4 linked regions of the Homo sapiens genome follow. The protein of the gene in region 4 interacts with the protein of the main gene of each other region in a pairwise test. Each region holds a gene or a part of one and is shown on either strand. Other genes may lie near its edges.

Evidence for each region.
Region 1: the proteins of NRP2 (region 4) and PLXNA1 interact in a two-hybrid assay, tested with the Homo sapiens proteins (one study listed by BioGRID).
Region 2: the proteins of NRP2 (region 4) and L1CAM interact in a two-hybrid assay, tested with the Homo sapiens proteins (one study listed by BioGRID).
Region 3: the proteins of NRP2 (region 4) and PLXNB1 interact in a two-hybrid assay, tested with the Homo sapiens proteins (one study listed by BioGRID).

What each region holds. Positions count from the first base shown.
Region 1 is NC_000003.12:126,986,099-126,993,121, reverse strand, and holds part of PLXNA1 (plexin-A1 precursor), read right to left. Parts: intron 4,602-7,023; 5' UTR 4,529-4,601; coding exon 3,335-4,528; intron 1,739-3,334; coding exon 1,556-1,738; intron 1-1,555. UniProt on the Homo sapiens protein: Coreceptor for SEMA3A, SEMA3C, SEMA3F and SEMA6D. Necessary for signaling by class 3 semaphorins and subsequent remodeling of the cytoskeleton. Plays a role in axon guidance, invasive growth and cell migration.
Region 2 is NC_000023.11:153,876,151-153,883,173, reverse strand, and holds part of L1CAM (neural cell adhesion molecule L1 isoform 1 precursor), read left to right. Parts: intron 1-2,455; exon of another isoform or gene 2,456-2,502; intron 2,503-7,023. UniProt on the Homo sapiens protein: Neural cell adhesion molecule involved in the dynamics of cell adhesion and in the generation of transmembrane signals at tyrosine kinase receptors.
Region 3 is NC_000003.12:48,413,067-48,420,089, forward strand, and holds part of PLXNB1 (plexin-B1 precursor), read right to left. Parts: coding exon 6,511-7,023; intron 6,301-6,510; coding exon 6,178-6,300; intron 5,974-6,177; coding exon 5,851-5,973; intron 5,477-5,850; coding exon 5,383-5,476; intron 5,298-5,382; coding exon 5,125-5,297; intron 4,997-5,124; coding exon 4,845-4,996; intron 3,386-4,844; coding exon 3,280-3,385; intron 3,102-3,279; coding exon 2,965-3,101; intron 2,694-2,964; coding exon 2,517-2,693; intron 2,282-2,516; coding exon 2,110-2,281; intron 1,976-2,109; coding exon 1,733-1,975; intron 1,006-1,732; coding exon 829-1,005; intron 753-828; coding exon 604-752; intron 472-603; coding exon of another isoform or gene 321-471; exon of another isoform or gene 104-320; coding exon 3-103; intron 1-2. UniProt on the Homo sapiens protein: Receptor for SEMA4D. Plays a role in GABAergic synapse development. Mediates SEMA4A- and SEMA4D-dependent inhibitory synapse development. Plays a role in RHOA activation and subsequent changes of the actin cytoskeleton.
Region 4 is NC_000002.12:205,720,483-205,727,505, forward strand, and holds part of NRP2 (neuropilin-2 isoform 2 precursor), read left to right. Parts: intron 1-1,995; coding exon 1,996-2,226; intron 2,227-3,302; coding exon 3,303-3,458; intron 3,459-5,430; coding exon 5,431-5,600; intron 5,601-7,023.

The sequences.
Region 1 (7,023 bases), on a different chromosome or scaffold from region 4:
CAGCAAAGCTCTGACCCAAACGGTGCCCCTGGGGCACAAGAGGGTGAGTGCTGGGCAGCAGGAACAGGGTAGGGCTAGAGGAACCTGGTCACTGGCTGGGTAACAGGCTCTGGGGCGCCCCACAAAATGTCTCTAAGCTGCTGCACTGGGCTTCCACACAAGCACGGTCCTCTGTCTGGCAAAACCCACTCCAACACCCACCCCATGCGCTCGAGAGCCCTGTGTGCCTTCCAGTGTGAGGAGAGGGAGTGCAGGCTGAGAGGACGGGAGGGGCCTCGCACCAGAGCCACAGGGCGGTACCCCACATGGGGGCCAAGAGGGAAGTCACAGCAGAGGACCCAACTCAGGGGTCACAGGACTTTCCCCATCAGCTTCAGCCTCATAGCCACTATGAGCAGAACCAGCAGGACCCCAGGGCACCCCCACCCTGGGGGGCCTACAATCAGCAGCTGGGCCCCCACGGGCCCCAAGACCACCAGCACCCCCCGCCCCCAGCCCAGAGCCTGAACATCTGGCTTATTTCACAGAGGGAAGCTGAGGCTGCAGGGGATCCCCTCCCAGAGATCACAGAGCCAGGGAGGGGCAGGACTCCCCACCACTCCCAGGGCAACTACCATGGCAGAGATGGGAGGCCCCCTTCCTAACACTGGGCACCGGGCTGAGAGCTGCAAGCCCTGGCCAGCCCCCGGCCCAGCCCCACTCGCGGGCACACATGGGCTCAGGGGAGCTGCATCGGCACCAGCCTCTGGTGCCGGTTATGCACCCCAGGACCCACCACTGCCCACTGGGCCTCTGGGGTGTCCAAGTATCCCCACCCTTCAGTCTCTCCGGGAGCTTCCTCCACACCAGGCCAGCCTGGTGCCCACCCCAGCCCAGGCAGCTCCCCTCCACCCACACCCTCCAGGAAGCTCTGCACTGCCTCTGTCCAGCCCACTGTTCTGGGGAAGGAAAGGAGAACCCTGAAGACCAGACAGCCATCCCTGTAGCACCTAGCCCTCCCCCTGCCACCGTGGGGCCAGCCCAGGGCTGTGTGCTGGAGCTCCTCAAGCACCAGCCAAAGACAGGCAGGGGCACTACCCTTGCCCTGCCCTTGGCCCAGTAGAGGGGCTGGGGAGAGGCAGGGCCAAGGCCTCTGGCCCGGCAGAGTGCTGAGGCAGCAGACACTGGATCTCCTGGCTGGGGAGCAGGGCCCAGAGGGGAGGGGGCCGCGCAGGCCTGCCCTCACCACCCACACACAGCAGCCTCCCCAGGAGGTCAAGTGCCCTTGGAGAGCCAGCCCCCGCCTCAGCATCCCTGGGCCCCTGCACAGGCTCCTGCGTGGTCTCAAAGTGTCCTTGCTTAGTGGGCCTGGGGCCAGTCATGGGCAGAGGCACAGAGGGGAGTGGGGCCCTTCAAGGTCACTGGGCCTAGTGTAGGGCAACATTCCCCCTGCCCCCTGTACGCCAGATCTAGCCTCCCACAGCATACAGCAGCACTGGGCCTGCCACCTGGGACGGCCGCAAGCCTTTGTTCCTGCCCCAAGCCCCCTCCTCACCCCACCCCACCCAGGCCTGACCTTGCGGATGCGGCCACTTCGCGTGCCGGCGAATACCACAGTGCGGCCCCGATAGTCATAGGCAGCCACGGCGGTCAGGCCATCATCCTTGTCCACGAACAGGGGCGTCCCCTCAATGGTGACTGTGCCCCCCAGGGGCTGGTTGAAGTCCTGCCCGCAGAAGTCGTCATCGATCTGCAGGGGCTGTGGGAAGGGGCAGGGTGAGAGCCACTCCCCGGGCACCTTCTCCCGGAGGACTGGGCCTCCCTGGGCAGGGCTGGGAGTGCAGTTGTCTTTCTAGAGAGGTTGGGGGTAGCCCCCAGAGGAGAGGTGCAGACAGAGAGGGTTTAAGACAGGAGGGAGCAGATCACACCTGAAAGGCAGAGGGCGGGCTCCCAGCTAAGAGCACGAGAAAGCAATCAATAGCTTGAGGTTCCGGAGCAGCTGGGGGCCAGTGTGGAGGGGGCGCTGCTCCACCGCCAGGCCTAAGGAGAGGGCAGGGCAGGCAGGGAAGGGATGTGGGGAGAAGTGGGGCAGATGGTCCTTGTCTGCAGAGGGTTCATTGGCAGGGGCCAGGCTGCTCAGGAGGAAGGAGCAGGGGAGGCTGGGCCAGGGCTAGGCCACATGGAATGAACAGGTGGGAGGGGGCAGTGGGGACTGTCCCCAGGGATGAAAGAGCAGGCCCCAGCCTTGGGGCAGGGCACAAAGAGAGAGTGTGGTGGGGCTTCACCCAGGCTCTGCCCCTACAAGCCTCAGTGTCTCCATCTGTATGGTGCAGAGAAAACACGTTCCTTGAAAAGCCAAGGGGAGGGTGGACAACCGCATCTGCCAAGCACACATGGGCCCTGCCTCACACAGGCAGTGAGCGTGAGACGGAAGGACTGAGGGGCCCTTGCAGTCCCACTCTGCCCTGAGGACAAAACCAGCAACACCCTCAGGTCAGACATGGGAGACTACAGCCAGAGAGGGCGAGGCCTTCCCCTGCGATGGCCAGCGACCCCCAGCAGCAAGCCCAGAAGGCCTGGCCTCGGGGGTCCCAGGTCTGGGCCGAGTCCCAGCCCCTTCACTTTCCACCCTAAGCAAGGCCCGTGCCCTCTGAGCCTGCCCAGGAGTGTGAACAAGACACTCCCTGAAAGGCAGCGAGATAGAGGCCCCACCCCAGCTGTGCCTTCTGATGGGTGCTGGGGGCTGTGGCTCCCTGCAGTCAGGGTCACTTTCTCTGCAAGTTGTTAACTGTGGCCTGCACCAGGACACCATCAGCTCCCATTGCTGGGCAAAAGCAGAGGCCCAGCGGGCAGGTGCCACCAGGGTCATGTGGGGGACACAAGCGCTCCATGGAAATGGTGTCTGGGCTCACCTGATAGGCTCTGGCACCAGCCTCTCACTTGCTGTGTGACCCAGGGCAAGTTACCCCACCTCTCTGATCCTATAACCTCATTTGTAGGATGGGGACAAGATGGAGCAGGCAAGCACCAGGTGTAGGACCAGGCATGTGGCTGGCACTCTGTCCAGTGTCCCACAGGGGCTGTGGACTATGCCAGCAGGGCCTCGTCACCCCATCTTCTGAGGCACAAGACAGCATCATGGCTGGGAGCAGCCTTTGGGGCTAGCACCCTGGGTCCAAACCCACTCTCTGGGGGATGGAAAAGGGCAGCCCCACCTAGCTGAGCCATGGGGATGGCCAAGCCAAAAGCCAGGCCAGGCACACAGCAGGCACCACTGGGCGTGCATCTGACACCGATGCCGTCGTCCCTGGAGGGGATGGGGCCGCGGGAGGAGGGGCGCCCCTGCCCAACTCACCGAGTTGATGCAGCCCAGCTCCTTGTTGAGCAGCCACGGCAGGGAGAGCTTGCCCTCACCACGGTAGCAGGACTGGATGCGCTCCTTAATCTTCTCCTTGATGGCCCTGAGCGTGAACAGGCACAGTGCTGACTCCTTTGGTGGCTTCACGCGGTTCTTCTGGCCCTGGGCGAACACAGTGAACAGCACGTCCTCGTCCTCAGCCAGGCCCAGCTGGTGGGCCAGGGCACGGCCGGGCCGGCTCAGGTAGGCATCCTGCACCAGGCGGTACTCCACACCCGCCTGCTCGCAGCCAATGGGGAACTCAACGTACGAGTAGAATTTGGGGTCGTCCACACAGAGCCGCACGATCTTGGACGTGAAGAAGTGCTCGCCGGCGGCATCAGGCGAGGTCAGCTGTGTGTCTAGCTGCAGCGTGAGGTAGTAGACAAACTGCTCGCTGCGGAAGCTGTACACATAGTAGATGTCAAAGGCCGGGAACTTGGACAGCGTGTCCGAAGGGATCTTGAGCTGTGATGACACAAACTCATCCTGGTACACGAAGCCGAACATGTCGGCATCCTCCTCGTTGGCCATGAGCCGACGGCTGGACAGTGTGGGGAAGTACTCGGACTTGCCATCGATGGGTGTGCCCACGAAGAGCTTGGCCTGGCCCTGGCCCGGTGGCCCGGCAATGAGCACGCCCGCCATGCTGCCTGCCTCCTGCACGCTGGACAGGTAGTGCTCCTTACGGTGGTGTGGCTCACCCAGTTTGAAGAGATCGTCCAGACGCAGGAACTGGCAGATGCCCTGGGAGGCGCTGCCACAGGCCAGCAGGCGGTTAGCGGCATAGTCCAGCAGCAGCAGCTTGTTGACGTTGTCAGTACTGCCCAGGCCGTGGGGGCAGGACTGCACGCTGGGCGGCGGGTAGCACTTCTCGTTGTCCTCCACAGGGCCCGTGACGTGGGCCCGCAGCAGTGTCAGGTTCCCCGACAGCTTATAGATGCGGTTCACTGCGCCCACATACACCTCGCCTGTCTGCTCATGCACCACTAGGTGGGTGAGGCCCCAGTCGCTGGCCGAGAAGGTGCGGAAGGGGGGCTGTGAACCCCCGCCTGCCCTGGGCAAGCCTGCCTCAGCCCACATGCCCGGCAGCAGCAGCAGCAACAGCAGCAGCAGCAGGAGCACCTGCAGGCTCCGCGGTGGCAGCGGCATGGCAGGCTGGGGCCTTGGGCCTCGGTGCTCTGGTCCTGCTGGGGTGAGCATCATGGTGCCAGGAGCTTCAGCCCTGGGGAAGGGGCAGAAGAGGGCATGTGAATGCAGGCATGGCCCATCCCATGATATTATGATCTCCCAGTGTGAGCCCTTCCAGTGCTGGGCGTGCCCACTGCACCTCCAGGAGGCAGAACCTGACCCACCAGGAGGAGCCAGGGGCAAACTGGGCACCTCCCTGGCCTGAGGCCCTATAAGCTGTGGGGTGCACCAGGTATCCCCAGGACACCTGGCAAGAGGTCACTCCGTTGGCACCTGTGCCCTGCCATCACTGGCGGAGGCCAGGAACAGGAAGGCAGGTGACAAGGGCCTGAGGTGTGGAATGGGACCCCAGCTGACACCAACATCTGACACCAACCTGGAGAGCAGCCTTCACCCAGAGCCTCCCTATGCACTGGGGAGCAGGACCCTCCCCACAGCTCTGTACTCCCAGGGTGGGCACCAGCTCCCTGCCTGAGGCTGGTGGGGACATACTCCACCACCGTCCCCTACAGAAGCTTGACATAGATGGGCTTTAGTGCTCACTCCCACCTCCACAGCCCTGCCTCTCCCCCGAACACGCCCTGACAGCCCACAGCAGAGGCACCACGGAGGACATGGAGGCCCAGGCCACACAGGCAGCAGTTCTCACTGTGGATAGGTGGCAGCCTGGGCTGCTCTCGGTGGGACCCCAAGCCCCATGCTGGATAAACCTTGAGACCTGCAGTCCAGAAGCCAGGCAATGTGTCCCACCCACATCCCCACCCCAGCCGACGGGTGCCCCGCCACACGGCCCCTTCCCAGGCTCCCTGGCCCACCAGCCCTGACTCTCAGCACTCTATCCAAGCCACCAGTCCTGCTCCCAGCCTCACACCCAACTCCAAGGAAAGAGGAATTCCTCCACAGGGAAGGCTGGCAGGTGCTCCCTGCACTCCACCCCTCCACAGTGACCCCTTCCCAGCCTCAGCACCCCATACCCACCCAGACCTGTGTGGCCCCCTCCTGCCTTGCTCCACATCGGGCCCTCACTTCCTGGTCACACTCACTACCAAGGTCCATTGACTCCACCCCAAACTCCACAAAATGCCCACCCCTCCTTCCTGGATTGCCAGGGTACTCGGCTCCCTCCACCCACAACCACCTACAGCCAGGTCCCTATGCAGAGGCTAAGGCCACTCTTCTGACCTGCACACGAGGTCAGCGCTGCCCAGATCCTGGCGGGAGTCCCCATATCCTGTCCTGGCCTCCACTGCCTCTGGAAAAGTCTCACCACACCCTGCCTAGCAACTGGCAGCCAAGCACTGGGCTAAATCTAGACCCTGTTACTCTGTAGGCAGATGACTCTGATGGGGACACTCCCTTTTCCTAGCCTCAGTTTCCCCATTTGCAAAAGGGGCATGAAAGCTCTTTTCTCATGGATGAAAGAGGAAAGGGCACACCTGCCCACAAGGCATAGTCAGCAGTGCCACCCCCTTGGTTGTCAGTAGGGCCTGCTGCCCTGGATGTGCCTGATGTGCTGGGGCCTCTCACCCACTCCTGGCTGGAGCCGGCTACAGCAAGGCTGAGTCCTGAGTCTTGAGTTCAAGCCTCAGCCAGCCAGTTTGCACAGACCATCCCAGACACCCCTTGTATGGTCTGGCCCCATTTTACAGATGGGGAAGCTGAGGCCTGAAGATGGATGCCTTCTCCAAGTCTACCAGGGAGCTGGGCACAGTCCCATCAGCCTCTGTGCCTGGTGCCCACATGCAGTGTGGGGCTGCCTGCCCCTCCCCCAGGCCTCTGTGCCCCTGTCTCCACTCCCCGCCCTGCTCAGTCACCCTGTTCTCATCTGCAGCACAGGACTCGTGAAGGGTCTCTATTACTTATTGCTCCCATTCTCCCGGCCAGAATGGCTGCCCTGTGAGAGCAGGGCCTGGCTCTGGGTGGTTGCCACTGCATCCCCAAGCCAAGCCAGGGACCCAGGAAGACTCAATAAATCCCCGTGAGTGAGCGAATGAATGAAGGGTATGCGGAGGGCCAGCCAGGTCTGGGTGCGGCAGCCCCCCATGCTTCTTCACTCCTGTTTCACTCCCCACACACTCCCTGCCCAGTGTGTGCACAGCACACACCCACTGCTCAGGTGGGGAAACCGAGGCTCTCAGAAGCAAAGAGCTTTGGCTGGAATCCCAGAGCAGGAACTGCAGGGTGCTCCTAGCAGGCTGCCAGCTGCCTTTGCCGGACAGCGCCCCAAGAACAGCAGGGGAGGAGTCCCCACTCCCGCCCCCGCCTCAGAGCTCAAGGAAGACCCGGGAGCCAGAAAACAGGCTCCTCACAGTGGCAGTGGGGCCGGGGCTGGGAGCTGAGCACATGTGAACTCCAAAGAAAACATGAATCACTCACCGTTTATCAGTTCAAAGCAGGCCTGCAATTACCAGGGGCTGGGCTCTCCCCTCCTCTGGGATAATTATACACGTCTTAAT
Region 2 (7,023 bases), on a different chromosome or scaffold from region 4:
CTTGAGGGCCCTGAGGTTGTGCCCTGTCCAGCAGCCACTCAGCACCCTTCTGCTGGACTCTACGCCTTGGGGTTGGGCCCAGACCCCCCATGGGGGCCTTGTCTGAGTGGAAGGCTGTATGGGGGGTGCCTGGTGAGCAGCAGCCAGACGAGCACTGGGGGAGGTAGCCCGCCCAGCTTGCCTCTTCCCCAGATATCAACAGGGTCTTTGTGGCTTCCTGAAGGCTGTGGCTGGAAAAAGAGGGAGGAGCTGGGGAGGGTCTGGCCGCTGTTCTTTCTAGAAGCTTTTCTTTGTCCAGTGGCCCCCAGCCCAGGTCCCCGTGTTCTTCCCAGGTTGGAAAGCTGCAGAGGGAGTGCCCAGCCACTGTCAGTCAGCAGCTCCTGCTCATCTCTGGCCCTTACACCCAGCAGGGGCAGCTGCGAGGGCCAGGGGTTGGGTGGGGCAGGAGGGTGGCAGCGTCCTGGGCTCCATGCACTTGGCCAAAGAGGACTTCTGAACCCGTCCATCCCAGTGCGGGTCTGAGAGTGGAACTTGAGGGAAAGGGACTGAGTCCCGGGAGCCCCTCTGCCCCCTGCCCTCCAGCCAGGCAGACTTCCTATCTGCATGTATGGGGTTTGTGTCTCTGCTTGTGTGTGTGTATTTGTGTGTGTGTAACCTCCAGTATTCCTGTTTGTCTGGGTGGGGTCATATATTTGGTTGCATGTGTGTGTGTGTTCGTGAACCAGCATGCACACACATATTGTCATGAGGCCACGTGGGTCTCCTCAGATGCCCCAACAGGGCCTGTGCTGGGAAGGGGTGGGGCTGAGGGTGGCTGCTGCAGTGGCTGGATGGGGACAGAGCCTCTGGCCAACCCAGGCTGTGCTTCAGTGGAGGGGGGTTCCCTGTGGCCCTGTCTCCCAGCCATCTGCGTCTGTGTTCATGACTTAGGAATGCCCAAGCCCTGGGGATCACAGAGGCCCCATTGTCCGCCCCCGGGCTTCCTGTGTCCCCCTCTGCCCTTTAACCCCTCGGGAGTGGGGCCCCTGGAGGGGGCCCGTGGGGCCTGGCAGTGTCTGAGCTGTTTCCAGGCACCCCCACCCCGCCCCCCGCAAACCAACACAGGCTAGGTATCCCAGGACTGCTGTGGGCCAGGGCCTCTCCCTGCCCCAGGCTGGGCTCCTTCCCTGCTCTCCTTTTCAGGCCACAGCCCCAGGAACTGGATGCAGTCTGTTCCTTCTGGCCTGGCCGCTGAAGCCCCCTCTAGTGCTAGGGTCATCCTAGCTCCCTGAGGAGGCCTGGGGCCTGAGAGGAGCCCTAGTTTTGCTGCCACCTCATTTCTCTCGCCTTCTAGGGGTCTCGGAGGCTGAAGCCTTGCCGCCTGCTGGGCATCAGTATCTCCTTCGACACAAGAATGGGGCCACTGCTGTCCCTAAATGCTGATTGGAGAGGGGCCTCTTTGGGAGGGGTTCTGGAGCCTCTGGTTGCAAGAAAGGTATCAGAACAAGTCCAGATTCCAGAGAGCAGAAGAGGGGACCAAGAAACCAGCCTGTCCCCAAGCCCAAAAGGGAAAGGAGTTGGCCTTCTCTTGGACTGAGTACCTGGATGGGGGACTTGGGGGTTTGTTTGGTGTCGGGCTTCAGCTCTGTGCTGAGACGTGATGTTGATCACATCCTACTTCCGCATGGCCTCCATCCCAAGATGTCACTCCCTGCCCCCGACATTTGCCTGCCATCTGCCTGGCAAGTAAGCCCTCCCCACGGGGCAGGATGGCTTGGAGGCCATCCTCGCCCAGGCCCCTGGTTCCCTGGGAAGCCCAGCAGGCACACATGTTGGGATGCCAGAGCCTCTGAGAGGCAGCTTAGGGAGCCACCACGCCCTCTAAAACCCCACCCCTGCTGAGACCCAGTGCCAGCTCTGTGATCTTGGACACAGTTTCCAGTTTTCTGAGCCTCCGTGTCCTCATCTGTAAAATGGGGATGATGATAGCACCTCCCTCCCTGAGGCAAATCTGGGGAGGAGATGAGTGGATGTGAGTGGAAGTGCTCATGAGGCTTTCTGGTACGTGGTAAGTCCACGCTGTAAGTTGATTTAATAGAACAGACCACAGAGGCATGTGATTGTGGGGATGGAGTGGGGCTCCTCCCTCCCTTCCCCAGTAGTCAAGACCGTCCTCCCTGAACCCCACAAAGGGTTAACCTCCGTCTCTTTTCCCCATCTTTTAAGGAGAATGGTCCATTACAGGTGAGTTGTAGTTGCCTTGGAGACTGAAGCCTCAGGCGAGATGAGGGGGCTGAGGGCTCACTCTCTCCTAAGGGTACCCTCTTAGGGAGGGGTGAGGTTGGGAGTGCAGGGACTAAGCAGCAGTCATAAAGGACTTCTGGGCCCCCAGGTACCTGTGGGGGCTCCCTGGAGCAGCCCCCTTTATGTGCTGTCTACATAACACATAACAAGGCTTTCCTCTGGCTTCCCCCACCTCTGGGACTTGGGCTGCATCACCATAGAAACCCGCCAGCCACGGCCTGGGGAGCGGGGCGGGGAGGGCCAGCGGGAGCCTTAAAGGGACACAGTGCACAGGGTGTAGGTGACACCCACACCATCGTATACACACCAACAGGCACAGAAGCCCCCCAGGCTCCCAGGCCTGCAAGCACATGGGCCCAGCACCACACTCTGACCCTTTCATGTGCCCTGTGCTGAGCCCCCAGCCCCACCCCCACTCTGGCCCACTGAGTCACCAGGCACCATGTCCCCAGGAGACAAGGGCAGGAGAAGCCGGATAGTCTCTGCTGTGCTGTTGAAGGGCTCTCTTGTTGCTTCTCCTTTGAGAGGAACTCCAGGCAGAACCTGAGAACTGACAGGCAGGTGTGCAGGGCACATGTGCAGGGCACCGCTGGAGGTTCCCTTCTCAAGGTGTGTGGTGGTGGTGGTGATGGGGTGTGTGTGTGTGTTTTCAGGGAGGAGGCAGTCACTCCAGGTCTAGCCAGGCTCCACAACCTCCCAGGTCCCTCCCTGGCAAGCTGCTTCCCATCAGACCAAAGCAGGCACTTTGGAGCAGAGGACAGAGGACTCCCTGAGGGACCTGCGGGTGTAGTGGGAGGCCAGGTGGGGTGGGATGGGGCAAGGCTCTTCTGGGGCTGAACCCCTCCCTGTAGGCTGCTGGGCGTGACCCTTGCCTCCCTGGCCCTTTCCCACCGGGGAGGATGGGTTTGGGACCGGACTTACTCAGGAATGGCCCCATCTTCAACTGCCCCAGCACAGCGGCCACTGTCCACTCAGTGCATGGTCACGCAGGCTCACTCTTGGCCTAACACATGTGCGTCTCCTCCAGCCAGGTGACCACTTACTCCCAGCCAGCAGCAATATTGGAAGGCTTCCCTGGGATTTTCTGGGTGCTTCCCCCTCCCCCCGTTCCTACCCGCAGCAGGAATCCCCCGACCCCCACCTGTTCCCTGGCATGGCATGGGTCAGCCAGCAGTGTGCCATTCATCCTGTCTCACGGCCGTCCCTTGCCCAGTGCCACAAGTGGGCAGGGCCTTGATGCTCTGTTGCGTGGGGCTTTGTAGGCCCCTCCGGCCCCAGCTCACAGCTGCTCCACCCTCTGTCTGTCTCTCTACCCTGCTCCCAGGCCAGCGTGACGTCCACGCCGGGAAGCCCCTCCACTGACCCAGGCCCATCTTCCCTCCTCCCCGCCCCTTGCCTGGCACAGCCCCCAGGGACAAGGACGCTGTGCAGGCGGCCTGCGCGCACGCGCACGTGCACACGCCCACCCCCACCCCTCACTCTTCTCGCTCTTTCTGCCATTTCTCAGCGGCGCACTCTGCAGCTGCCTCTCACCCTTTGTGCTCCGGTTTCCTCTTCTCTCCCTTTCTCTGCTGCCTGGGTCTCCGTTTCGGAATTTCCCCACCCCCTAACCATCTCCATCGTGGTTAGCGCTGTCTTCCTACGTCTGTCTTTGTCTCCTGCTCCCCCCTGCCTCTTCTCACTCTGTCTGTCACCCTTGGCAGACCCGGCCTTGGCTCCATCTGTGGAACACTCCCCCCTCCCCGCTCCTTTGCCCTTAGTGGTGCTGGTGGGGGGTAGAGGGCCTGCTGAGCTGACAACCCTAGCTGCTTGCTCTGTAATTGCCTGAGGAATGGTGAGAGATCAGAGACCCAGCAGCAGTGGGAGGAGAGGAGGGAGCGCCCCCTCCCAGCTGTTATATCTCGCAACCTTCTGGCTGCTTCCTGCCTGTCTCCGACTGCCCAGGGCGGTGGCAAGCTAGGTGGCAAATACTGGGAGACCAAAAAAGAAGTTGGATATGAGCCTGTGGGGAGATGGGATGGGGCTGGGATGGGGCAGGGAGCGGGGACCAGGGGTTTGGGGATATTGTATTTCCCCTGAGCGTACATGCCAAACACCATTCCAGGATTCTAGATTTGGAGGACAAATAGAGGAACTTGCGTGGCAGAAATTATCGACCTCCAGAGCACCCAAAAGCCTCTGACATGCAGGAGGGTCCTTCTTTGAGCTTTTCCTTGCTCCGGTTTCCTCCCCTCCCCCTCCTAAGACCAGTGCTCAGAGCTCCCAAGGCTGCTGTTTGATCATCTGCTCTCTGATCCGAGTCTCCTACTGCTCCTACAGGCCTTGAAGTTGAGGCCAGTGCTGCCTGGGGCCTCCCCTGATCCACTGGCTTTGTAGGGAGAGGCCGGGGTGGAACAGATCCACTGTTGCTCTTCCCTTCTGGGCCCAGGTCCAGCTCTTGCAGGCTGGGAATCACTCTTCTTACCCTCCAAGTCATCTCTTGGCCTCCAGGCCATGCACGCTGACCCACCCTGCTGCTTCTCCACCACCCTCTGCAGCAAGCTCTTGCCCAGAGTCCCCACGGGATCTGCCGCATTCACAGCTCTTCTTGGGTCACTCTGTTACACAAAACTGACAAGGCCCAGAGCCTTAGCACAGCATGGCTGACTTCTCTACCATCCTTTCGGTGTTCCTGCTGAGGCTCGGTGCCCGCTTTGATAAGGTCCTGGCTGGGCAGAGGGAGGATGCACAGTATGGATTTAATGAAGGCGTCTAGTCTGGGACTTCAGCCTCCAAGCTCTGTCACCTAACAACACCCTTTCTTGCCTTGCCTGCACTTTAACCACTTCCTGTTTGGAATTGAAGTGGTCTGGCCACTTGGGAGTCTGTTTCCTCTTGTCATTGTCAGAGGAGCCCCCTCTTTCAGACCCTTAGTCTTTGGCTCCCCTTACTTGTAGGTGAATATGGACATGGCCGGTGTGGCTTGGGTTTGGGGTGGACACATGCAGCAGTTGAGCTCTGAAGACTCAGACAAAGACCTAGAAATTGGGACTTTGAGACACACAAGAAGTGTTAGAAACACTGTCACGGAAAATGTCCCAGAGCTTGTCCTGACCCCTGTCCTGACCCTAACCTGGAGCATCTGGAAGGGAGGAGGCCTCAGTGGCCTCTCTTGACCCCCAGGGGGCTGAGGAGCAGCAGGGGGTTGTTTTCCTCCTTCCTCTCTTCTCCCACACCAGTTCTCAAGGGAAGGCTTCCTTCCCCATTCTTTCTCTCTTTTTTTTGAGATGGAGTTTCGCTCTTGTTGCCCAGGCTGGAGTGCAATGGTGCGATCTTGGCTCACTGCAACTTCCGCCTCCTGGGTTCAAGAGATTCTCCTGCCTCAGCCTCCCAAGTAGCTGGGATTACAGGAATGCACCACCACGCCAGGCTAACTTTTTTTTTTTTTTTGAGACAGAGTCTTGCTCTGTCACCCAGGCTGGAGTACAATGGCGCAATCTCCGCTCACCGCAACCTCTGCCTCCTGGGTTCAAGTGATTCTCCTGCCTCAGCCTCCTGAGTAGCTGGGATTACAGGCATGAGCCACCACGCCTGGCTTTTTTTTTTTTTTTTTTTTTTTTTTTTGTATTTTTAGTAGAGACAGGATTTCACCATGTTGGCCAGGCTGGTCTCAAACTGCTGACCTCATGATCCGCCTGCCTCAGCCTCCCAAAGTGCTGGGATTACAGGCGTGAGCCACCACGCCCAGCCCTAATTTTGTATTTTTACTAGAGACAGGGTTTCACCATGTTGGCCTGGCTGGTTTTGAACTCCTGACTTCAGGTGATCCACCCACCTCGGCCTCCCAAAGTGCTGGGATTACAGGCATGAGCCACTGTGCCTGGCCTTTTATTTTTATTTTTATTTATTTTTTTAGACAGAGTCTCACTCCATCACCCAGGCTGGGGGGCAGTGGCACGATCTTGGCTCACTGCAACCTCCGCCTCTCAGGCTCAAGTGATTCTCATGCCTCAGCCTCCCAAGTAGCTGGCATTACAGGCGCCCACCACCAAGGCTAATTTTTTTTCTTTTTGTATTTTTAGTAGAGACGGGGTTCCGCCATGTTGGCCAGGCTGGTCTCAAACTCCCAACCTCAAGAGATCCACCCACCTCAGCCTCCCAAACTACTGGGATTACAGGCGTGAGCCACCACGCCTGGCCCTTTCCCCATTCTTTCTTCATTTTCCTGAAACTATTTTGTGAAATGCTGCCATCTTGGGCCCCTTTCCTCCCTTCTCTATCCCACTTCCCAATCCCCCCATTAGCTTTTTAGGTCTGTACAGCACCCAGGCATCAGTTGGCTCTGAAAGCTATAGCAATGTGACTGCAAGAAGAATTCTTCTCTACATGTGTGTGCACACAGAGATAATAGATACAGGGATTCATCCCCACAGATACATAAAGACATACAAGAAGACACACGTAGCTAGCAGACTTGTGTGTTGATTCCCTCAGGCACACACACTAACACACCCACTCATGAGTGCAACCCCTCCCAGAGAAGACACACCACAGAAATACCAGCTCACATACAGCTCACTCCCTGCTTGCAGATCCACAACCACACACATGCCCACGGACACCTGCACATGCAGACACATACGGGGATGTGCATGCCATGCACAGGGGAGCTGATGGGGCAACAAGTTGGTGCTGGGAAGGCAGCTGGCAGGAAAGGTGCAGACAGAGAGTAGAGAGGGAATAAAAGGCAACCTAGAGGCC
Region 3 (7,023 bases), on a different chromosome or scaffold from region 4:
ACCTGTGAATTCCTTCTTGCAGCGGTCCCGCACACTGCTCTCCAGATTCTCCAGCTGGATCTGAACCTTCTTATAGTCCCTCAGGGCCTGCTTGCTCTTCCTCCTGCTCAGCCCCAGGGTCAGGAGAGGATGGCCAGATGAGTCCTACTCGCCCAGGCCTGCCTGACAATCCCCAGGCACACCCCGGCCTCATCCAGCACAGTCCAATGCAGCCATGCCAGCCAAGCTCAAGCCTAGCCCAGTACGATTCAGCCTGTCCCGTCCCAAGCAAGTCACACACACCCATGCCCCGTCTAGCCCAGCACAGTTTAGCCTAGAGATCAGCCAACCACAACCAGGCCAAATCCATCCCACAACCTATTTTTATAAAGATTTGTTAGAACACAGCCACTTTCATGTGTTTCCATGTCGTCCCTGGCTGCCTTTGTGCCACAGTGGCAAAGCTGAGTTGTTGAACAGAGACCACTTGGCCTGCAAAGCGAAAATATTTACTCTCTGGCCATTTACAGAGAATGTTTCCTGACTCCTGGCCCGGTCTGTCCCTTCCCAGTCCAGCCAGATCCCACGACCTGCCCCAGCCCAGCCACATCTGGCTGCACCCACCTGTACATGAGGACAATGATGATGACACCCAGAGCCAGAAGAGAGGTGCCCACCCCCAAGCCCACCTGGGCTGCCACAGGAAAAGCCCCAGGGCTCTCGCCGTCATACTGCACGTGACCCAGGGAGAAGCGCAAGTTCCCCATCTGCACCTGTGTCAGGAGCCACCTGTGAGCAAGGGTTTGGCCCAGGTCAATGCCCAGCCCGGCCAGGGACCTGCCCACTGACCGTGAACTCAGGCAAAGAGTCAGGTGCCTCTCGGAGGGCATGGTGCCGTGGCAGGGGCTGCTCCACGGGGGGCTCGCAGTACAGGTGGTGCCGCGTCAGCGTCTTCACCACACAGGGGCCATCCCCTATCATAGCCACCACCTCCTCCTTGGACATTGCAAGGTCCAGGTTCTCCCCCTGGAACAGAGGGTCACCGATCAGTCACTCAGGACCCTTCCCTCAGATCCTGTCCTCCCCAAATGTGGGAAGGACCCTGAGACCCAGCCGCAGCAGCAAAGCTGACAGCCTCTCAGCACCCTTCCCGAGTGCAGGCCAGTCACACGGTGTCCTCCAAGCTGCTCCTCATCACCCTTTGTTGCCCTTTCCTATCTTTCTTCTCCAGAACGAAAAATCTGGAGAACATAAAGCTGCCTCCCAAATCCTGCCCAGCTACCTAACAAAGCTGGAGCCCCCAATCTGTGTCTGATGACTCACCAGGGGGGTGATGATGCTGTATCAACCTGTGGTCTGCCCGCATGCCCATCTGCTGCCCACTGTGTATGTCCAAGACACATGCCTAGCGCATGTCCATGTGAGCCAGGCTGCCAACGGGGGTCAGCCCGATGGCCTATGTGGACCACACCACCCAGCTACTGCACAGGCCGAACATACAAATGCAGTCATTCCAGAGCCTGCCATGGAGTGCATCAGGACCCGGGCCACCAGCCAAGCAGTCCAGCTCGTGCCAGATGCTAGGCTAGGCACCCCCCACCAGCCCCCTCTGCCCCCACCACAGCAAGGATGAGGAGCCATGTCCATCCACCGGCCCTTGCTCTACTGTCTCGGCCTCTCCGCCACACACAGCAGTGCTGTCCAGCCAAGGGAAGGGTCTCGGGGCCCTGCCAGGTCCAAGTAGGAGCTGTACCTCCACGGAGAACACACTCCCAGGCTTGTGCCGGAATGGCATGGTGGGGTCCTCAGGGTTGAGTGGCTGCAGGGTGGGGTCGGCCTCATAGGAGAAAGGTGTGGGGTTCAGTGTTGCAAAGTCAAAGACCAGGTTGTCAAGGATAAATTCCACCCGGACCCAGGGGTCCTCAGGCAGGCCTGGGAGGGCAGGTGTGCGGCACGTGATGAGCTGGGAGGAGTTGACATGGCACGGCTCCTCAAACTGGAAGGAAGACAGGCAGGTTGACGAGGGGCCAAGCAAAGATGGGAAGAGCCTCCTCTGGCACCTGCTCTGGCTGTCCCCAGGGTGTGGTATGGGGCAAGGGGAGAGTGTGGGGGTACCCAAGGGTGTCCTACTTGCTGGCTACTGCAGGAGGGTCCAAGGGAACATGCCGTCTCCGGGACCACGCGACGCCTCCGTCCAAGCCCCTGGCTGGGCTGCAGCATTCTCGAGACCACGGTCACCCGGATTCTTGGCGTCTGTACCACGTCCAGATTCTGGCCACGGACGCATATCTCACGTCCTCCACTGAAACAGACCGTGAGCTTACGTAACGTAAGATGGCTTATGTTACCTGGACCTAAAGCACAGCCCAGTCCCGGCTAGGTCAGCTCAGCCCCAGCCCCAAACCACACGACCCCTTGCCCCTACTAGCAGCATGGGATTCTCAGTGCCTCAACATAAAGCCCTACAAACCCCCACATAGTGGAGCTGCAAAGACCTCCCTGCCACCTGCCATGCAGCCACACCCCTGGCCCAACACCTGAGGAAGCTCTTGGTGGGGCCAGCAGAGGTGATGTTGGGGTCCAAGGTATACTTGAACTGTCCGCGTTGAAGCCTCCGCTCCGTGGCCCCAAACCACACAGCCACAGGGAGCGTGGCAGGCGTGGGGCGTGGGCTGGTCTCACACCGCAGTTGTTCTGACTGCTGCTCCGGCAGCCTGGGAGGGGAGGTGGGAATGAATGCAGGGGCGCAGGCAGGGAAAACTTGGACCACTCAGGCCCCAACTGGCTTCCCTCAAGCGCTGACTGCAGTCTCCACCAGGTGTCCCTGGAGGTGCACTCCCACCACAGCTGGCTAGGGAGGGTCTGGCCACTCTCTGAAGGAGCAGACTGGCCCTCTTCCCCTTTCTGCTCTCCCCAGGATCTCAGACCCCTCCATCTTTCCCCTGGAGCAGATGGATTTTTGCAGGATGAGGAAGTGGCCCTCACAAGTGACAAGGCTGGTCTCCAACCACCACTCGGATGTCCTCCAGCCGCCCAGTCAGGAGCTTGGAGCCATTCAGGGTGAGACGGGTGCCCCCAGCTCTGGGGCCGCGGGCCGGGAAGATGGAATGGACCTTCGGATCCTGTGGGACAGACAGGGAGAGAGATGAGCATCAGACCAGACACATGGAGGCAGGGACAGCCTGAGAGACAGGCTGGCCCAGGACTGGGAGCCCCACCAAGGAATAACCAGATGGGTTGAGAGGAGCCACCAGAGAGGTTGGCCCGCTGGCAGCTGGGGGTGGCTCAGCAGTCAGGTACCTGGTAGGCAAAGTCGTGTTCTGAGACACCACGTCCTCTTCCCGGCACCTCCACCGCTGTGGCGCCGGCCACCTCCTCCCCACTGGCCCCGGTGATGCACACGAGGCTGTAGGCACAGGGCAGGCTAGGGGGTGCCAGGCTGCATCAAGGGCCCCTCAAGCTTACCTGGCAGCCCCTCTCCCTGCCCTACTGTCAGGTGGTCTTCCCCTTCCCATGCTCCATAAGATTGACAGAGACCCTCTCTCACTTTGGAGGGAATTCTTTATGACACATCAGAAGGCCTTGGTATCTGAGAATTAATATTTGTGGCTTCAATCATTTAAGTTCAACCCCAGGGGCCCCCAATAAGGAAGAATTTATCTGTGGCATAAATTTACAAAGGGGCCCTGTCAGCCTGGTTGTGGGGCGAGCTGCTGAGCAAGTGAGTGGGCACAGCTAGCCGCCCATGTCCTCCGCCACGTCACATGCACAGTACCCACTCAAAGCATGGTAGAAACTTGATTTATTCAGGAAAAAGAGTCCCTGAAAGCCTCTAGTCAGACAGGGAAATACAGGTGAAGGGAAAGTGAACCATCTAAGAAAATGCTGGTTCTTAGCCAGAAAATAGAAGCTTGGGCAAATTAAACTTCCAGAGTGTTAAGCCTGCAGTGGCTCAACTCAGTGACATTGTCACAGTTGTTGCAAACACTAGGAAGACACAAGTGACGTGTGAGCCACCCAGGGGAGGCTCCAGACAGAATATATGCTAATTGCTTCATAAATCACAGCAGTCTTATGGTCTGGAACACTAACAGTCTAGATAGTCACCGTAAGTTCTCGGTCATAACACATTCAGGGGACACTCCGTGCTCCAGGAGAGTGGTTCCTTGTTTCAAATACAGATTTGGGGGCCCCACCGTGGGCCTCCTGAATCCAGATGTTTGTGTTGGTTTGGGACAGGATCTGCAGGTTACCCTGATATTCAGCCACGTTTGGGCCCTGCTGCTTATGGACATCTCCTTAGGAATGTCCTGCGTGTGTACCTTTGGGGCCTGCAACCGCTGGCCAGGTTACCATAACCCAGGAGCCCCAGGAAGGCAGCAGGGGTCCCTAGAGACGACAGTGGAGCCTGGCCCTCGGCCAGTGTGCCTTTCTGAGGTGTGCCTTCCAAGTCTACCTTCCTGAAGAGCCTGGCAGCCCAGGACAATGCCTGGGGAAGAGTGAGCTGGTGAGAAGGCCAGCCCCTGAGCTTATCTGTCTGATCTGAGGGTCCTGCTGCCACAGCTATTAATATATCCACAGTCCCTCAGAAGACCAGGTGAGCAGAGCAGGAAGCAGAGCCACGAGTCAGTTCTGGGCAGTGACGGGCCCAGGAAGGATTCCCCAGCAGCCCAGGCCAGGAACCTACAGGTGTGGTGGGTGCTCAGGGTCTTCAGTGGCAACGCTGGCACTCGGGCATTGTGGCCAGGATCAAGGAACAGGGAGAGAGGGGGGCAGATGAGCGGTGGGTGGGAGGCCCCAAGCAGCAACGCCAACCGCGGAGGCCCCAGGCTGCGCCGTGCTCCTGCTGGGTGCAGCCAGCTTACCTGCTGGAGACCTCGTACTCCTGGGCATCCACAGCACAGGGCACTCCAGCCACCGTGACCATGCCCAGCACATCCTGCACATGCTGGCCCAGGTTGGAGCCCCTGATGGTGACACGGGTGCCTCCGTCTACAGGCCCAGTCAGTGGCTCCACCTGTTCCAGGACAAGGACTGCTCACCTCTACTCAACTGGAAAGGCAGCCCCAACCTCCCACCTTTGGGCCCCCACACCCTCCCTCTAAGGGCAGCACTGAGGAAGGGATGGCCAGCCTTTCAACAAACCGAGTGGATGAGGGGCGCTGGGCACTGGGTGGCCACAGCCTCAGCCTCACCACAGGCCTCCCGGGTCACACAACGTGGACGCTCCCCCTCACACCACACACAGCCATACTGGGGCATGGCAGTTTGGCAGCGGCTGCAGTCTCCATGTCCCACGGAACAGTCATACAGTACCACTGGGGGTGGCAGAGACACACGTGAGAGGCAGGCCTGGGAGAGCCCTGCTACCACCGCCAGCCCAGCAGCCCGCAGGTGGCTCACCATGCAGCCCCTCAGCACTGTCCACACGCAGACGGCCGGCCCGACGCAGAAACAGCCCCACACGGAGCTCCGGCTGCAGAGCCTCATAGCTGAGCTGGAGAAATGGGAGTGGGTTCAGAGTCAAGCACTGGGGGAAGTGTCAGGCCTGGGGAGGGGTTAGTCAGAGAAAGGACTAAAACGACCAGTTAGGAGCATAGGGTCAGAGGGACCCCATGGGGCCACAAGTTGGAGGGCAGAGCCAGAAATGGAGTATGGGGACCCCATGGGGTCTCAAGTTAGAGTTCAGAGCTGGGATGCAAGGACTCCACGGGGCACATGGTCAGAGGTCAGAAATGGGTGTGGAGACTCCCTCAGGGCGACACGGTCAGAGCGTGGCTCTGGAAAGTGTGGTGCAGCCAGCTACAGTTGGCAGCCAGCCTGTGGCCAGTGCAGTGCACCCGTGCCCACCCAGGCGCTCATGGTGTGCACCTGGTGCTGCTGGCAGGTGACATGGCACTGGGTATCTGGAGGTGGCTCACACTCGACCCGGGCCTCAACCACCACCTCGAGGCCCTCCAGCTCCATCACACACTCATTGTCTCCTGGGCCATCCTGAGGGCAGAGAACACAGCTGTTGGGCAGCTTCAGGAGCTGGGCCCAGGGAGTCCTGCAGGTCACCCAACAGATCCCCCAGCACAGCTTCTGGGTTGGAGTTGAGCCCTCGGACTCTGCCCTCCTCCTGCTCCCCAGGGCTTGTGCAGAGTTTCTCAACAGCTAAGGAGGCTGCAAGGACAGCGGCAGGCAGGACACACTGACCTGGAAAAGGTGCAGGTTCCTGCCTAGCAGCCGGATTTCCCGCTCCACATGGACCGGCATCAACGTGGAGCCCTGAACGCTCTCCACACAGGGGCAGGAGCTTGCCCCCAAGGTCGCCTCTTCCTGCAGGCACCAAGGGCAAGGCAGTCTATGGAGCCCACCCTGCCCAGCTCAGCCCTCTGCCTTGCCAGATTCCAGAGGCAAGGCCGGTGTGGGGCTGCAGACTCCACCCTGCCCCTCACCTCCTCCCAGTGCAGAATCACAAGGCAAGCTAGGGGTAGCATCTTCCCCACATCCCCTCCCCTGAGGCCTCCTTCCTGGGCTGGGCCTCACCAGCTCCCAGAGCCCGGGGGTGTCATACTGGTAGTCGAGGCTGGACGGGAGGATGAGGGGGGCGGGAGGGCCCTCAAGCTCTGCTGAGTCTCCATCACCTGAGAGGAGGGTGGAAGTGGAGAAGGCGGGTGCGTCACCCCCCGTCCACTCGTCCGCCTCGGGCAGCTCGCCGCCTTCTCTCGTGAGCCAGTCCAGGGCGGGCTTCACGGAGCCCATGGCCCCTGGGAAAGTGGTGGCAGGAACAGTGGCAGGGGGCAGGTCCAGGGGCACTGTGGGATGAAGAGCCTCGGGGCCAGGGTCTGCAGGGGGCACTGCTGCTACCTCTGAGGGTGACAGCGGGGAGGCCAAGAGGTCCTCAGGTGTGGCTGAGGGTCTGAAGTCAGTGGGGGCAGGGACAGCGGTTCCAGGTCCATTTTGGGGGCTGGGAGGGGAGGGCTCCTCATGGAGAGGCGACCCTGTGGAGCCAGGGGAAGATATGGAGCCAGAACCTGCCCATGGCCCCCAGGGGCTGAG
Region 4 (7,023 bases):
GTGGACATTCCCCTTGCCTTCTAAGGGAATGACAATAGAGCAAGCTCTAAGAGGGCATGTCAGGATGCTCTTTCTAGCTCTCAAGCAAGAAGTGAATAGAGAGTTAATTTCCTCACAACCATGTGTGAGGCTCAGCTGAGTGGCCCGCATGAAGAATGCTGCACAGCAGCCATAAACTCTAACCTTTTCAAAATTCCTCTTGGCCCCCTGAAGACCCGCCAGCTGGCTTGGCTTTGCTGAATTGCCTCATCCCGGGCCATTGAGGAGGCCCTCAGGAGTCCGAAGCCCAATCATAAACAAAGCTGGGGGAGGCAGCCCCAGCTCATCCCTCCAGGACTAGCTGCCCATTGAAAACTCGGCCTGACCTGCTGCTGCCATGCATATGAATGATGGGGTGCAGAGCCTCTGAGATTCGCTGCTTAGAGCCTCCACAGAACCCATGCAAAGGTTAGCCCTTGCCCTCGTGTGTTCCTAGTCCCTACCCTGCCAAAGCACAGCACAAGGTGGAAAGTAGGAAGTGATGGATGGATAGGTAGGAGATACTGGAATTTTCTGTCTGGTGCTGAAGAAAGTTGCAACTCCTCCATCCGCATTTATTTGCATGGCACTTCTTCCAAATCAGACATTTGCCTCTTTCCAGAATGCTGTCATCAATAAAGAGACTCAATGAGAGGCCCCCTACAGGAGCTGCGGATAAAGGCATCGCTGCAGGCTCAGATCAGTGTATTGACATCACCTAGTTATATTTCAGTGTGAGCCCCAGAGGACACTTCCTGACAGTAAACACCCAGTTTATCGAGTATTTCTGGTTGGTTGTGTTTTTTATGCTTAGAGTGTCTATTATCCTCCTCAAAAATCCTGCTTCCTTTTCTTCTTTTAAAATCTGAACATAACGAGTGAAATCAATTCTAATTGTCCAGCACTTTCATTCATTGCGTGAATGTGCATGAGCTCGTGCTTCGTGGGTCCATGGGTCTGGGTTGCAGTGCTCCCGGGACCCATCTGTGGTGCTGCCCTGGCAAATGGTGGCTGGTTAAAGCACAAGGACCCTTTTAATATGACTCCACCTAGAGGCATTAAGAGATAGGGTGGCTGTAATCCTCTTATGAGCTCCTGTTCCTGCTCCTGCTGCCATCCAAGCTCGCACCAGGATGCGAATGTGTGCCGCATTTAATCAGGATGCCTCCATGCGTCCCAAGAAAGCAGACGCAAGAGCTCAGGAGAGAAACAAGGCCATCCACACCACAAAGGAGCCAGAAGCCTTCCAAATGTCAATGCACTGCTGCATTTTTCCAAACTTGTTGCCGGAGCGGCCTTTAACATCCCCAACGGCCTGCTGTGATCCACCAGCTAAAAACATCGATTGTTAATTGTCCGACCACTACAGAGCAGCTCGTTTTAATATAGTCATGACATGAATGAGACCCAAGCTCCCCTTTGCCCCTCCCCTGAGGCACCTTGGATCTTGGAGGGAGAAGGGGGCACTTCGTTGGCTGTGGTACAATAGGGGCTAGTGTTGAGGTCAGCAACAAATAAGGGGTAACATTGTTTTCCCTGCTGGCAATCAGCAAGGCTTCCTTAAGGATTGAAATAACTTACATTTCTGGAGTGAGCAGCTGAGTAATTGAGAAAGAAGACTCTGTTCCTCTTTTCAAGAGAATCCCTCTCTCTCTCTCTCTCTCTCTCTCATACACACACACACACACACACACACACACACACACACACACTTCTCTGTACCTCCACCCCACTCCCCAATTCCTCAATTGCTGCTCTCACTCTAATAATTATGTAGAGCAAGCCAGCTGTGCCTCCCTAATTTATGAGGGCTTGAAACGTGCATGTGAAGAGTATGTTGCTTCAAGGGCCACTCCAGTAGCAACAAAAACCTCAAGAGCAGGGGGATTTGGGGCCAAACATTTAAATAACCCATGTGACAGAGGCCACAAAGAAAGGCATCTTCTTCTTAGTGCTACAGTTCTCTTTTACATACAGGCTCTGAAGATTGCTCAAAAAACTTCACAAGCCCCAACGGGACCATCGAATCTCCTGGGTTTCCTGAGAAGTATCCACACAACTTGGACTGCACCTTTACCATCCTGGCCAAACCCAAGATGGAGATCATCCTGCAGTTCCTGATCTTTGACCTGGAGCATGACCCTTTGCAGGTGGGAGAGGGGGACTGCAAGTACGATTGGCTGGACATCTGGGATGGCATTCCACATGGTGAGTGATGTCATGAGGCATTCCTCAGTAGCTTGGCCTTTGCCTGTTAATTGCTTTAGTGATGATAAAGAGGAAGAACAAAGACTTCAAAGCTCCTATGAGTTCTTATATGACCCATGGTGACTTTCTCTTCTTCCCCTTCACTAAGGATAGCTTGAGAGAAATTACAGGAAGGCTGTCTACTTTCTTGGAAATATTTCTTTAGAAAAGGATAGGAGACTAAATAGATACTTGGAAAGGATGAGAAAACTTAAAGTGTTCATTTCTACTCCAAATTGTCAGGATAGAAGGTGGCTCAGTGGCTAACCCCTGTGACAAAACAGAAGGACTCCAGAGCCAGACTGGCCGGGCTTAACTCCCGGCTCTGCTACTCCCCAGCTGTGCAACCTTAGACAAATCCCTTACCCTATCTGTGCCTTATCTGTGTTAAGTTAGCTGCTATCATCATCATTATTACTATAATTTTAAAATTGTCATTAATATAGTCATAAATATTGAAAAGGTACATCACCCAAGGCTAACAGCCACCAGTACTTCGCAGGTGAAGACCAACATGGATCTTGGGTCTAATTAGTATTGGAGAGGAACAAATCTTTCACTTTTGTAGTCATTGTAAGTTTTTTCTAATATAAAGGAGACTTGATGACTAAGCAAAAAGAGCAATTTCATTTCCTGGGTAAATCACAAGACTTAGTCAGAAAACTTGGGTTGTAGGCCCAGCTCTGCTATTTCCTAGCAGTAAGAATAAAGAAATCACATGCGCTCTCCAAACTTCAGTTTCTTCCTCTGTAGAACAGACATTGTAATGATACCTTTCCAGCTCATCTTCCAGGCCACTGAGAACAGAATGAAGCCAGTGAAAGTGGCCTGTACCTTTTTAATGAAAAAGTGAAAGTGCTTTTTGATGTGCAGGAAAAATATTAGCCATTGTTCTTGAAACATATCTTTGGTTTTTATGGCAAGATGTACAAAGTGTGCTCCACTGAATGAAATGCAATGAGGGGAAGGGAAAACGGAGTGAAAACCAAGTTTGACATTTTGATTTCCACTGACTTCTCTTTGTCTTGAATGTCCAGTTGGCCCCCTGATTGGCAAGTACTGTGGGACCAAAACACCCTCTGAACTTCGTTCATCGACGGGGATCCTCTCCCTGACCTTTCACACGGACATGGCGGTGGCCAAGGATGGCTTCTCTGCGCGTTACTACCTGGTCCACCAAGAGCCACTAGAGAGTGAGTTGGCCGATTGGGAACCTCTGTCCTGTCCTTCCGTCAGGGCTGTGAGGGTGTACAGGTGAAGGGGGGCTGAGCTCTTATGAGGGAGGAGATGGGAACTCTACGGAATTTATGGTGGCATCTGAGTTTAGAGGTGCCCACATCCTCTTGCCAGGAAGAGGTTGATGAGAAAAGAACACATTTCAATCTGGGTGCTTCTTTCTTTAAAAAATATATATATGTGTGTAACAAGAATTAGTTATTTTCAGGGAAAGTCATGGTACCATCTCATACCTCAGTTTCCTCATCTATGAATGAAAGAGAGGCTAGTTAGGATGATCTATACAGGGCCCCTCCTGTGCTAACATTTTTTTAGTCTGTGGCCATTTTTTTCCCTCTCAAAATCTCAGGGGCAATTGTCACAAAAGTGAACCATTTTAAACCTCTCTTTCTCTGGATTTTTTGACATTAACCATCTCTGGGCCTGGGTAATGTTTTCCTGACTAGATTGGTACAACTGCTTAGACTTGGACTTCACCCTTCCACCAAAGATAGTTTGTGGAGCTTCTAGTATGTGCCAGGCACCAAGCAAGGAATTAAAAACTATCACTCTGATCACAGCTGCTGTGGGACCTGCAGTCCCTCAGCACTGAGCAACATCTTCAAATCAGCTGCTCTTGGACATGTGTTTCAAATATGCTGCCATTTCTACTTAAAAACCCAAACGATAACTTTTTTTTTTTTTTTTTTTTTTTTTTGAGACAGAGTCTCTCTCTGTTGCCCAGGCTGGAGTGCAGTGGCTCAATCTCACTCTTCCCAGTGCAACCTCCACCTCCCGGGTTTAAGCAATTCTCGTGTCTCAGCCTCCCGAGTAGCTGGAACTACAGGCATGCGCCACCATGCCCAGCTAATTTTTGTATTTTTAGCAGAGGTGGGGTTTCACCATGTTGGCTAGACTGGTCTCGAACTCCTGCCCTCAAGTGATCTGCCTGCCTTGGCCTCCCCAAATGCTGGGATTATAGGTGTGAGCCACCATGTCCAGCCCCACATAACTTTAAAGACTGAAGAAGCACTTTTAAGAAAGATTCAAGCTGTGGAAATCCTACCCTGATTGCAGACAACTCACCATATATATAACTACAGACACGGCAGCCTGGCCTGCAGGAAGGTTGCTGGGTTTTGCATTTGTTTTTTCATCAAAGAGCTTCTGAAGATTGAGTGACAAAGAAACAGTATGGCAAATTGCACCAGGTCCCGTGAATGGTCAGTGCAGTCACAGAGTAAAGAATAGGTTGATACCTGATAAGGATTGCTGGCCGATCTTAGACACATGCACACACACATATCGATCAGTGTTGATGGCATTCATAGAAGGACAGCAATGCAACTGACAGCACAGGGCCAGAGTAAGTGACTTCTGGGTCTATTTGTCCAGACAGGTGGTGCGGGGGAATAGAGAGTGACATGCATGTGCTCATGGAGAGATTTCCCAAAGACAAGTATTTATGCTTTGTAATGTCTGTCTTCTGTGCCAGAACTCACAAGACAGTTGAGTGAAAAAAGAAAGAAGCAAAAGTGCCTCCTGGGTGTTTATTAATAAAGCAGGCTTCCCACGATGTATGAGCTCACCCAAATCGCCACGAGTCTATCTCACATTTACCTGTATTGCAGTAATGGTGCATCTGGCATCTGTAGCCTGCAGCAATAACAGTTCTTGTGCTTTAGATTGTATTTTTAATCTGTATGATGATTCTCTTATTTATCCATAGCCTGATTTCTTTTAGGTCCCATTTAGTTTCTCTCAGACCCAGAGGGGTTGTCAAGCTCCATGACTTGATGTAGTTGTTTTTAAAATGTGAGCATATAATTAGGGTCTTTTAAATGAGGAAGTGCCTGCAAGGACTTGTCCCTAGAAGGGAGGCAGCATTTGGGGGATCCCGAGGTATGAGGTTGGAAGGCCTAACTGCATTTGACCGTCTGCTTTCCCCAGACTTTCAGTGCAATGTTCCTCTGGGCATGGAGTCTGGCCGGATTGCTAATGAACAGATCAGTGCCTCATCTACCTACTCTGATGGGAGGTGGACCCCTCAACAAAGCCGGCTCCATGGTGATGACAATGGCTGGACCCCCAACTTGGATTCCAACAAGGAGTATCTCCAGGTACTTGTGCAGATACCAGAGGATGTGAGAGTGTGTATGTATTGCTGGGGTAGGAGGGTAGCTCCTCAAATACAGTAGGCAGAGGACACAAAGAAAATAAACACAGCATACCTGAGAACTCCATTCATTCATTCATCCAAACAGATGTGTATGCCAGGCACTGGGTTACATGCTGGCATACACTGATCAGAGGGAGCCTGCCCCTGCCCTTGTGGGGATTACTGGGCCTGGGGAGAAGTTGTTTGGCCAGGATGCTGTTTGCCCTATCACTATAGATATCCAAGGAACATTATATAAGCTGTTTGGATCTTCCTCATTCTTGGCACAGGGAGGCATCAGGGACATGGGGGGCATTCTCCTAAGGGGAGGTTTGTTGAGGTGCTAGCTGCACATGACAGCTTCTCATGATCTTTGCTATTGGAGAGAGCCCTGCCAGGAAGGTTTTGCACAGAGCTATCAGAAGAACACATAGGAAAATGTCACTACCAGGAACAGAACTCAAGGTGCCCCAGATGCTCGGCAGCATCTCTTCAGACCATTGTTTGCTTTATTCTGAATAAACCTTGCAGCTCATGTTGAGTAATCTTCCCGCACTGCACACTGCTCCAATTCTCATCCCCTGGGAAGAAGTAAACAGGGGGAAAGCAAGCTACTAGTTCCACACCAGAGCAGTGACTGCTTTTATGACACACGTAAGACAGCCTTGTGACCCACTGACAAGCCTGTCCTAGCTCTGAGGCGACACAGTGACCTCTGCTCTAAGAAGGATATTGCAAAGCAGACAACAGGAAAGGGAGAAACACCACTTAGAAACTCCAGGGAGTCCACAGAGGTTCTAACAGTAAGCCCTGGGGCCATTTGTCATTGTCTCTTCTCTCTGCCTCTCCAAAAATCCATCTCCTCGCAGCCTGCAAAACTTCCAGAAAGTTCTGTATAACTGGCATCCCCTATCTTTGACCTTAATCATATACTTTCGCCTATTGCTATCCACCTGTTTCTCATACGTGTAGACAGCACTATGTACTACTTATTCAAATGTTTAGTAATGCTGAGCACATTGTAGGTCACCAATAAGTGCTTACTGAATTGAATTTAGCCAGTGTGTGCTAGCTACATTTTGGTCATATGGAGACTGCCATTAAGAAACACCATGGCCATCAAAGGAATGACATCCAGCAATTTCCAAATGGGTTTGGCATTGTGGGAGGGGAAGTACCTTAAAATGTTGGCCATCCTCCTCATAGAGCAAAAGGTCAGGACTCGGTGCATAAGCCTAATTGCTTGGGCAGACTCTACATGCCCTTTGACCCCTTAGTGACCTGAGCAACTAAATACACAATGGAGCGAGAGGGTGTGGGGAGGGGATGCCTCTATGAGTGTGACTTTTGGAACTAGGGCATTATAAGTGAGTTGGATTGAACTG